3 linked regions of the Homo sapiens genome follow. The protein of the gene in region 2 purifies or fractionates together with the protein of the main gene of each other region. This does not show direct contact. Each region holds a gene or a part of one and is shown on either strand. Other genes may lie near its edges. The genes, in order: TRMT11, WDR48 and UNC13B.

Region 1 (3,652 bases), on a different chromosome or scaffold from region 2:
CAGGCATGAGCCACTGCGCCTGGCCAGGAGTTTGGATTTTTAGATATAATGGGTAGCCACTGACTGTTTTTCATTTTAAGCCAGGAAGTGACAAGATCATTTGTGTTTTAGAAAGATCATTCTGAAGTACGAGAGAAAAGATACCACTTAGAGAATACTGGACCAGAACTAGAGAGGCTCAGGAGTGTGACTGTGTAAAGTAAGGCAATGCAGTGACAATGGAGTGGTTAGACTGTGGTCTCCAGAATAACAACCTTAGTACTTGGTGATTTTTACTTGTTTTTTCCGTCGTAAATTCTTCTTAGTGTATTACACTTGTGCCAGTTTATTCTTCCAAAAACTCTGTTCTGTTTTACACCCTCATTTTTCTTAAGATGAAAATCTTTAGTCGGGCATTCAAAGTCCATCACTGCATGGTTCTTTCCTTTGTGCTTTCACTTCCCACCTAGTCCTTAGTGCTGCCAAAACTGACTCATTATTCCCTGAATTCCTGCTTTCACCTTTGCTCTCTGTGCTCCCTTTAGTCTGGTTTGGGTCTTTCCCATTCTTTATTGATTTTTACATAGGAAGTATTCATTTAGAGTTAATCACATGTTTATTTCTTTTAGCTTTATATGTTTTACATGATTATTTTTCAGATCCACAGTTCCCTTTCTGTAGTTTTTCCTCCTCTGCCAAAATTCTTATTTTTTTCTTGAATCCCCTTCAATGTAGAAAGCGTAGTTATGTTAAAGTATATGATAAAAGGGATCCTGTGGGTCTGTTTCTATTGTTTCTTTTTGTTCTGTTTCATATAGTGGGCTATTTTTAAAATATATGCCAGATGTTGTATTTGAAAATTTATTTGAAAAAATAATTTGAGGGCTGGGATGATGTACATCCTCTTCAAGAAGATAGGAACGCATAGGAGCATGAGGAATCTAGGTTGGGTTTAACTCATTTTCAGGTGTTAAGCCCTGTTTGTGTTCTGATTCCCAGGTACTCACAGAGTGTAGCTTTTTGACATCCTAGTGTAAATTAGGTGGTTCATCAAGTATCCTTTTCTCCTCTGGGGGGCCCTTTCTCTTTTTTTCCCTTTCTATCGGGCACTCAGAAGGGCTGTTCACTCTTGCAGCTGTTTTTGGATTTGTAAATGTCTCAGGGAAAAAGTGGCTCCACCTTGGAATTTTTGTCCTCTCCTGGATGTTGGTTTGGTAATTTTTGTTATCTTTCTATGCCTTCAATTAGATGGCCAGCTTTTCTAGTTCTTTTCAGCAAGAAGCTTAATCTGAATTACCTCTTTTGCCATACCTGGAAGTTGAATTCCTGTCATTGGGTTAGATTTTTTTCAGGGATTGAGGCAGTTTCCATGAAACTTTACTTCTCAAACTGAAGTAATCTTTTACTCTCTTGTACTCTAATACTTTTTTGCTTTTACCTGTTTAAGAACATGTACTGTTTTTTACACTTTACATTTCAGTTGTGAGGTGGTTTTGTTGGTTCTACTAGACCATAATTTCCCTAAGATAAATGTGTGTGTATTTTTACATAGATCAGGGACTTGCACATATTAGTTGCTTAAAAATTTTTTTGGGGGTCCGGGCGCAGTGGCTCACTCCTGTAATTCCAGTACTTTGGGAGGCTGAGGCGGGCGGATCACAAGGTCAGGAGTTCGAGACCAGTCTGGCCAACATAGTGAAACCCCATCTCTACTAAAAATACAAAAAATTAGCCAGATGTGGTGGTGTGCGCCTGTAATCTCAGCTACCCAAGAGGCTGAGGCAGGAGAATCGCATGAACCTGGGAGGTGGAGGTTGCAGTGAGCCGAGATCACACCATCGCACTCCAGCCCGGGTGACAGTGTGAGACTCCATCTCAAAAAAAAAAAAAAAATTTTTTTTGGAGACTGTTCTCTCTCTGTTTTCCAGGCTACAGTGCAGTGGCGTGACCGTGGCTCACTGCAGCCTCAAAGACCCAAGTTAAGCCATCCTCCCACCTTAGCTTCCTGAGTAGCTGGGACTACAGGTGCACCACTATGTCTGGCTAATTTTTTTATTTTTATTTTTGTGGAGCCGGGTGTTAATCAGAGGCTGAGTGTTGGTGTGAGGGGGCGGGAGGGGGTCTTGGGAGCTCTCACTGTGTTGCCAGGGTTGGTCTCAGACTCCCGGTCTCAAGTTATCTCTTTGCCTCGGCCTCCCAAAGTGCTGGGATTGCAGGTGGAGCCGCCATACCTGGCTGCTTAAAATATTAAAATCAGTGATATAGAATCTCTTCTGGGAAAGGCAATGCAAAGGACAGTCTATCCTTTTGGGCCCAGCTACTGCATTAGAACTGATAAGCAAGGAAGCTATAATGAATGGCTGCCTTTATGAATTAAAATGAGAGATCAGGAATATAAGTGTGGTCCAGTTTTACCTCTGATAGAGTTAATCAGGGCTAAGTATAGTTGGCAGCTACTTAATGTAGTACTTATTGTACTAAATAGTGTTTACTAAAGTTCAAACTCCTGGGTTTTATTGCTTGTCCTGAAGCAACCTTTTAAATGGATGAAAAAGCAAGTAGCTGAAATAATAGAAAAGCTCATGGAATTAACGCATCACACATGCCCCAGATCATGCTACATTTTTATATCCAATGTTCAATATAAATTATTTTTTATTCCTAATATAGAAAGAGTCTCAACTGGAAAGTTGAATTTGCCATAAGATTAATGAACATTTTGTGTTTTGCTTTTTCCAAGTAGATTGATGAAGTGGTTTAAACATGTTTTGCTTTTCAATTTGAAACTTGGGTTATCATATTTATTCTCAGTTTTAGGTGGCTGCTTAAGCTTTGGGTAGTAGAGATAATGCTATGCCATAAAACTTTAATCTTTCACTTTTTTTCCCCACCTAACTCTTAGGATCTTTGTGTTTTAGCTTGTTGCAGCTTTTTAACAGTATATTCCAGGAGCAGCAAACTTTGGTGTTTTAACTTGGTTATAGTTGGATGTTTTAAATGTAAAACTGACTTTACAATATGCTTTAATATAGAACAAACAACAATCATGCAAGATGAAGTAATTTAATCTATAACTTTATTTTTTTTCTTTTAAGTGCTATAACTCTATCAGTCTTGGTTGACTTCTTGAGCCACTGGACTTCTAGGACAGTTATCAGGGTCCTCATCATTTTGATTCCCTTAATAACCACCTAGGTTCTATGCTTCTCTCTTTATAGTTCACCTAACCTGATGAGGTAGCTATGATTCCTGTTTCACATTTGAGGGAACTAAAAGTTGGAGGATTTAAGATTCTTGTATAAAGCCACATCGCTAGTATTTGGAAGAGCTGAAAATCAGATTATGGTCTATTTAATTTCTAAGTCTCATGATGTCTCCTATTCAGATTTGTGTTTTCCTTGCTGCAAAATAACCTTTGGGCTGCCTTCACTGATTTATCAGTAGTCTGTGATAGTTCTTGGTCGATCCATCTGATTGGACTGAATTCAGCCCCTTCTAACACTGAATTTTAAAAAATGATTTGTTGCATAGACAAAATAGAAATGGCACTAGTAGCTTGAACTTCTCATTCTTCTTGGTCTTGGAGTGGGGGACTTCCTGGTCTGGGTATAGTTTCCCTTTTGATGGCGGTGGGCTTGGTGTTAAAGGCTCTTCCTTCTGGTTGGGAGGAAAG
Region 2 (3,652 bases):
CATCAGTTTCTTTAGCTCAAAGTCCACTGTACAATTCTGACAGGGATCAAAGTGTGTCAGGTGATGTAAAAGAAAAGCCACCATGGGTGGGGCAACAGCACCCTCTCTCTGACAGGAACATCAGAAGACTGGTTTTCAAGGAAGCATGTCATCCTCATGTGAGAGATTTAAATTCCACATATCATTATGGGTGAATCTGACAGCCAGAACAAAGTCCCTGGCAGGAGGTACTCGCCATTGTTGCTCACTCCTGGTGGCCAGCAGAGAATCTTCAGCAGAGTAAGCCTCAGTCGATGGGACTCAATGATTCCTCAACCAGCTGTAGGTTACACATGAGGATGTGAAATTCTAAGTTCTTGTTTCCCCTTCCTTTGATCAAACTGAGCCAAATGCATATATTCAAAACATGTTCTCCTCTGCTGCTCAGGGAACGTTACTGCCACTGCCTATGGCACACACACGTTTCAGATGTCCTCAGTGACATTAATTCTTTACACATGCTTGAGCATATGCCCTGTCACTTCTGAGTTGGAATTTGAATTTTTTTTTGAAACAGAGTCAAAATCAGGTAGGCCATGAGACTAGGAAATACCAACATTTCAGCCCAACATGAAGAGTGACTATGCAATGACAAACCTGGCTTTCTGATGCAGCTAACTACCTAGCTTTGGAGGTTAATCCAAAAGATCAGAGGTACCTTGAAGAATATTTTGGAAATAAGTCTGTTAAGGTGCCTCATTTTAAGACAAAAGTCATCTGAATATAGAGTATTTTATTTATCTTGAGCAGTCTCACTAAAAGCCATATCATAAGGTGGTCTGCTCTTTTGGAATCTCAGTCTCAGTTAAGACTGGATGGATGTTCCTACTTTGAGATATGGAAGAGAGGACAATAAACTGAGTACACCACAAATATTTTAGCTAACGGTTTAAGTAAGTACCTTTTAGTAAGTACCTTTTAAGTAAGTACCTCTAACTTTTTATGCAACTATCTGAATATAAAAACTAACCATGGTTTACTTCATTTTCCTCTTCATCCATTGGATTCACATGTGTTCTAGGCCAATATTCCAGGAGTGCTTGGAGTAAAAGTCCTCCTAAATTCACTGCAAAAAAGTTAATTAAAAAGAGATAAAATGGAAAAGCGAGTTACTTGGCTTTAACCTAAAAATAGAATAAAAATTGTAAGTTTGTACATATTCTGATGTTACATTCTTAACCCAATGCGAATGATGTCTAAAATAAAGACTTTAGTCATTTTGCCAATTCTGCTAAAATTTTATCTTAGAATGTTTAAAGCAATGATGCTATGGAGCAAAGACATATTCTACTTGGTTGTTCAGATACAGCTATTATTTAAAAACAAACATGAGAATCAGATTTTTTTTTTTTTTGAGATAGAGTCTCGCTCTGTCACCCAGGCTGGAGCGCAGTGGTGCAATCTCGGCTCACTGCAAGCTCCGCCTCCCGGGTTCACGCCATTCTCCTGCCTCAGCCTCCCGAATAGCTGGGACTACAGGCACCCGCCACCACGCCCGGCTAATTTTTTGTATTTTTAGTAGAGACGGGGTTTCACCGTGTTAGCCAGGATGGTCTCGATCCCCTGACCTCGTGATCCACCCGCCTCGGCCTCCCAAAGTGCTGAGATTACAGGTGTGAGCCACTGCGCCTGGCCGAGAATCAGATTCTTTAAACGGCTATTTCCATATGAAATTACTAAAATGATTTGTATACATTAGGTATTTGTACATACCACATTTTTAGGACATAGTCAACAAAATATAGAGAACTTTTACAAAGATAAGTACTTAGCAAAAAACAGCTCATATTCATCTTCTCTTTAGAAGGGAGGAAAAAAATGAAGGACACTTAAACTCACATTTTGGATCTGACCCATCAGGGCTGCTGAAACCAGCATCTTTTGCAGAAACCCAGGCAGCAAAACAATCACTTTCATCCAAAGTAATAGTTAACATCTATCAAAAGAAAAAACTTAGTGGCATCCCATTTGAATATATTCTCCAAACAAGTCTCTAAACCTTCATTTATTTGTACTATTTGACTAAAGTGCTAAGTCATAAATTCAGGAACCAAAATGTGTTTTGTGTGATTCAATGCAACAACACAATTTAGTTTCCTGGGATACCAAAGGCATTTTGTAACTTTTAAATTTTTTTCTTTTTTAATATATTTTTAATTTTGTTTTTTTCTTTTTTATTCCATTTTGCATTTTAAGTTTTAACACAAATTTTTTTTTTCACACCTAAAAACACAGGACTCTGTAACTAATAATAATTATAAGCTATAATGAAAATCTTCAATTATCCCAAATCATACAAGTATCAATTGCTAACTTACCCCTGTTTTTAAGTCTACTGAGAACCAATTTGGCACATACACCATTTTAAATCTTTTCTTAATTTCATCTTCAAAATCCACTTTGCCCAGATCTTCAACTTTACATGCCTATACATCAAAAGAAAGTATAATGATCAATATTAAGTGGTGAATTCACTTGATTCTGACTTTGCTATTCAAAATTTTACATATTTTCACATGTGTCTAAGTGAAACAGTCTAAAATACATTTCAAAAAGAATGTGGTCCTTTTTTAAAATAACAATCTGCTGCTATAAAAAATTTAAATTAAAAAAGCACAAAATAGTATTTGGGAAGAAACTGTATTTAATTGTGCTGATATTGATATAATATACCACCTCATCTTAACAGCAACGTGGCTCTTTCGAGGGTCCCAGTTGTCGGCCATCTTCTCAAAGGGGGACTGCTTATTTTCCCACATCCCATTGTTCCTTGATGCTCCATGGAGACCATTACTCTACCATCTCCCATGTAAAAACTTATTTCTCTGAGGCCTATGTCATTTAGCAACAGTAAACGGTACACCTTTCCTTCACTGCCATCTAGCAACCTGCCACTCTCCCTCATTTACTGGAGACTTGAGCCCTGGGGTCACTGTCTTGCAGTCCATCTCAACTAAATCTCTCTTCTACCTCTGACCTTGCCACCTTCCCCATTATCCTCAGCACATGACTCTGATTCCTTTTTCTCAAAACAAAGAGAAGCCTTGACAGAATCCCCTTAACTTTCTCTATCATTCTCCCTGGTGCAAGGAAAACGGTGTCCCTTCTGACTGTGCTCCGGTCCCCCTCACCTCTTGCTTCTTGGGATGACCTTGTATTGTCATCTACCCATGAATGTCTCTACTGGCTTCTTCCCAGGAGCAATGAAATATGCTCAAATTTCTTACATCTGAAAAATACCCAAATATCCAAACAAAACCAAACAAAATCAAAAGCTTCCTTTGGCCCTCTGACTCCTACATCTTCTCTAGTTTCCGCCGCTTCCTGCCTACCCCTCCAATCAAATTTCTTCAAAGATTATCCAGTCAAATTTTCTGTTTCTTCACCTTCAAATCACTACTCAACTCACTCTACCTGGCTTTTGCCCTTAAGACTCTACCCAGAGGCCACCCTCTTTATTTAAATCCATGATGTTAGTCACATCTTAAATCAACTCACAGCAGGTTAATGCCACTAACCGCAAGCTTCTTCTTGAAACACTCAATTAGTTCTGGAGCTGCCACTGGCTCTTCATTTTCTTACTCCCCCGCAACTTTTTAAAATCATATACTAT
Region 3 (3,652 bases), on a different chromosome or scaffold from region 2:
CAGTGGGCAACTGTCCCCGCCAGGGGAAATCTGTCAGGAGACAGTTTTAATTGTCACAACTGAGGGTTGCAAGGATTGCTACTGGCATCTAGTGTGTAGAGGCCAGTGATGCTATTAAACATCCTATAATATACACAACAAAGAATAATCTGGCCCAAAATGTCACGAGTGCCGAGACTGAGAACTCTGGCTCTGCTCCAACCTATCAGCTAGTCTAACCGATTTAGCTCAGTAATAACATTCAGACTCTGTACTCAGCTTCATTATGAGATGTTAAAGAGGATACATTTTAAATTTTTCTTCCTATGGATACCAATTGGCAGACACATTGCTAGGCCCTGAGGAGGCTGAGGGGTGGGTTAAATCTGACTTCTAGATCAATTCTTTCTTAACTCTGTCCTGGGTTTCTCAGCCAGGGAAAAACAAAACAAAATGTTCACCAAAAAAGTTACAACAGAAATCACTGTTATTTTCCAATGGGATTTTCCCTAAGTTCCTCCTAATTGCCTGGTATTTTCAGGCTGATTTCTGATCCTCTAGCCCATACCAGCAGAATAGGTACCAGGTCACTGTTCTGAGTACTTCAACACACATACACATATACCTGTACATAAGTACATGCACACACACTGACCCTGACCAACCCCTTTGAACAAGTTTGGGCCAGAGGTCAAAGTAGCATTCTTAATAGGTTAGGAAGTCAGCCAAAGTACCTACCACAGCCCCAGTGGATGAAATAACCTGGCTCAAGTCAGTTCCTGACTCAGAGGCTGCCATATACAAGGTCAACTAGTAAGCTATGAACTGCAGACTCAAGAAGCCCTGGTACACTGCAGCTCACTAACTACAAAGAACCCAAGTGCTGGCTGGGTGCAGTGGCACACCGCTGTAATCCCAGCACTTTGGGAGTCTGAGGCAGGTGGATTGCTTGAGCTCAGGAGTTCAAGACCAGCCTGGGCAACATGGTGAAACCTTGTCTCTATAAACATACAATTAGCCAGGTGTGGTGGTGCACACCTAGTAGTCCCAGCTACTCAGGAAGCTGAGGTGGGAGAATTGCTTGAGACCAGGCTGTTGAGGCTGCAGTGAGCCAAGATCGTGCCAGCCTGGACAACAGAGTGAGACCCTATCTCAAAAGCAAACAAACAAAAACCCAAATATTCTTCAGAGATCTCCAAAATGTCTTGGAAAGTGCACCATAAATCAAAGGAAGCAATACAGAGTTGAGCCTGGAGGTGTTAACTACCACCATACCCAGCTGCAGGGAAACAAATGACAATCACTTATTTTCAGCAATACCACAGGGCAGGTACTGAGGAAGCCATGTGAGCTCCTCAAGGCAGCTGTTGCCTACCTCTCCTGGGGACCTAGGAAGTGGTCTTTTTGCAGCACCAGATCTGGGGGAGGGTGGGTTGTGGCATCTTCTTTCATCTCCTTGGGTTCACATGCTGCCTCCTTCTCTGCTTGACCTGTCACCTCCAAGGGTTTCTCTTGTTCTCCAAAACCTGCTTGGCCATCTCTGGACAGGCTGTGAGAGCTGTGGCAAGAATGAATCGAGTCCGTCTCCCGATGGTCGTCATCTTGTTCGTGATACTGGTCTAGTTCACTTAGCTGAGAGCTTCCTTGACTCACATTACAGGAGGAGCCATACCTACTGCTGCTGGTGGGGCTGTGAGAATGACAGAAAGACAGATAAGTAAATAAATGCAATCAGGGACCAGGACAAAAGAAAGGAGACATCCAGGAAATAATGACTACATTAGTAGCAAGAATCAAATAGGAGGTTCCTGGGAAGAGAGGACCAAACTTCATAATCTAGAAGAATTAGTCTCTATTCAGCGAAAACACAACAGGAAAACAACACAACATGCTGGGTTCTCCAACGACACTTAACCTCAGTTCTGCACTTGACTTTGAAGTATATTTTATCTTAATAGGCTATTTGTGAGTAGGATTAAAAATTATTAAAATGGCCTGTTACTTATTCCTAAAATTCTTTATTCAGTCTTCTAAAGAAGCTTGTCCAGTGGCTGTGATTAATCTTTCTTTAATTTCCACACAGTAAAATGGAATGAATGAACTCCACTCTTTTTCTATTACTTATTACATTGAGGTCATCATTTCTTCCTCTACAATTGTAAATGTGTACGCCTGTACCTTAGGATGAGCAAAGGAGAGCAGACATGTTCTTTCAGTTATCATCTCAGTTTCCTCATCTGCAAGATGAGTTAATAGAACCCATTGGAAGATAGAGGCCAGGACCAAGAGAATACACAAACGAATGGTCTCATCAACATAAATGCTACAATGATATCCCTGGCAGCATAGGAAGCGTCCCAAAGATGAACATCTGTAACTGAGCTTCTTTCAGGGCAAGGCTCAGTTTTGGAAAGAGTGGACAAAGTCCAACTCCAGGATCTGGGTCAGAGCCGTATTCATGCATCTCTATATCTGAAGACCAGCAAGCCAATCTTTTCTCAATCACCTGTATTCCCATATCCAGAAAGTCATGAGAGAAAGCAGTTATAGCAGAGAATGTGACAGTGGCAAGAAGGGCAGAGTGGTGGAAAGAAGAGCAGTATCTAGAAGTTACTTCCTTGAGTTTTATGGCCCTGTCATCTAAGGGCTTCAGTTCTTTTGAAGAATTTTCTTACCACAGAGTCAAGCCTTTAACTAAAGGGCTTGTGTTTACCCTTGGTCAAAGAAGAGAAATCACTGTTATTTTCCAATGGGATTTTCCCTAAAGTTCCTCCTAATTACCTGGTATTTTCAGGCTGATTTCTGATCCTCTAGCCCATGCCAGCAGAATAGGTACCAGGTCACTGTTCTGAGTAGTTCAACACACAAACACATATACTTGTACATAAGTATACACACACACACACACACACACACACACACACACACACACACTGACCCTGACCAACCCCTTTGAACAAGTTTGGGCCAGAGGTCAAGGTAGCATTCTTAATCTGTACTGTATGGTACTGCTTCTTAGGGGAAATAACAGTACCCTCTGCAGATAGATCCTGTACACTGCTCGAGACTGAAGAACTACAGCAAAGGACAGCTCTGAGTTCCTGTGAGATTTTACTCAAAGCATTTATCAGACATCAGCCTTGAGGGTAGTAAAAGGCAGAGATGATACCATGGAAGAAACTATGCAAATCTGTATGGAATAGGATATGGGAATACAGACTATCCCAAGGCATCCTTTGCACTTTGTATTTTGCTTAATACACTCATTGCCACTGGAGAAAGCATCTTAGAAGACTTGAAAAAACAAAGCAAAATAGATCTATCCCCATCTCCTACAAGATATAAGTGCCTAAGGCCCAAGGAAGCATCCTAGCCTATCATGTAGTTGTAGTTAATATATACCACCAACTACTTACTACCTCTTCCTGCCCTCCTTTCTCCATTTCACATTATACAAGGCAGAGCAAACCAGAGTGAGTAAATATCGGGGGCCCAGCTTTTGCTTTAAGCAGGAAGCTCCTTGTTCCAGTAAATGAATTACATTTGGCAGAGAGAGAAGGGGAGGATGAAAATACCCACACACTGAGTTCTTGTTATTTAACCCCTAATTAACATGAAGCTCGGGTACTAGGAAAGACACAAGAAGGATAAAAAGCAAGCTATGATTAATCTA

The links.
Region 1: the proteins of WDR48 (region 2) and TRMT11 purify together in Homo sapiens (affinity purification with mass spectrometry; one large-scale study listed by BioGRID and IntAct). This does not show direct contact.
Region 3: the proteins of WDR48 (region 2) and UNC13B purify together in Homo sapiens (affinity purification with mass spectrometry, with the first as the bait; one large-scale study listed by BioGRID). This does not show direct contact.

The regions. Positions count from the first base shown.
Region 1 is NC_000006.12:125,989,390-125,993,041, forward strand, and holds part of TRMT11 (tRNA (guanine(10)-N(2))-methyltransferase TRMT11), read left to right. Parts: intron 1-3,652. UniProt on the Homo sapiens protein: Catalytic subunit of the TRMT11-TRM112 methyltransferase complex, that specifically mediates the S-adenosyl-L-methionine-dependent N(2)-methylation of guanosine nucleotide at position 10 (m2G10) in tRNAs.
Region 2 is NC_000003.12:39,082,968-39,086,619, reverse strand, and holds part of WDR48 (WD repeat-containing protein 48), read right to left. Parts: intron 2,466-3,652; coding exon 2,358-2,465; intron 1,976-2,357; coding exon 1,879-1,975; intron 1,106-1,878; coding exon 1,010-1,105; intron 320-1,009; exon of another isoform or gene 236-319; intron 1-235. UniProt on the Homo sapiens protein: Regulator of deubiquitinating complexes, which acts as a strong activator of USP1, USP12 and USP46. Enhances the USP1-mediated deubiquitination of FANCD2; USP1 being almost inactive by itself.
Region 3 is NC_000009.12:35,308,484-35,312,135, reverse strand, and holds part of UNC13B (protein unc-13 homolog B), read right to left. Parts: intron 1,670-3,652; coding exon 1,355-1,669; intron 1-1,354. UniProt on the Homo sapiens protein: Plays a role in vesicle maturation during exocytosis as a target of the diacylglycerol second messenger pathway.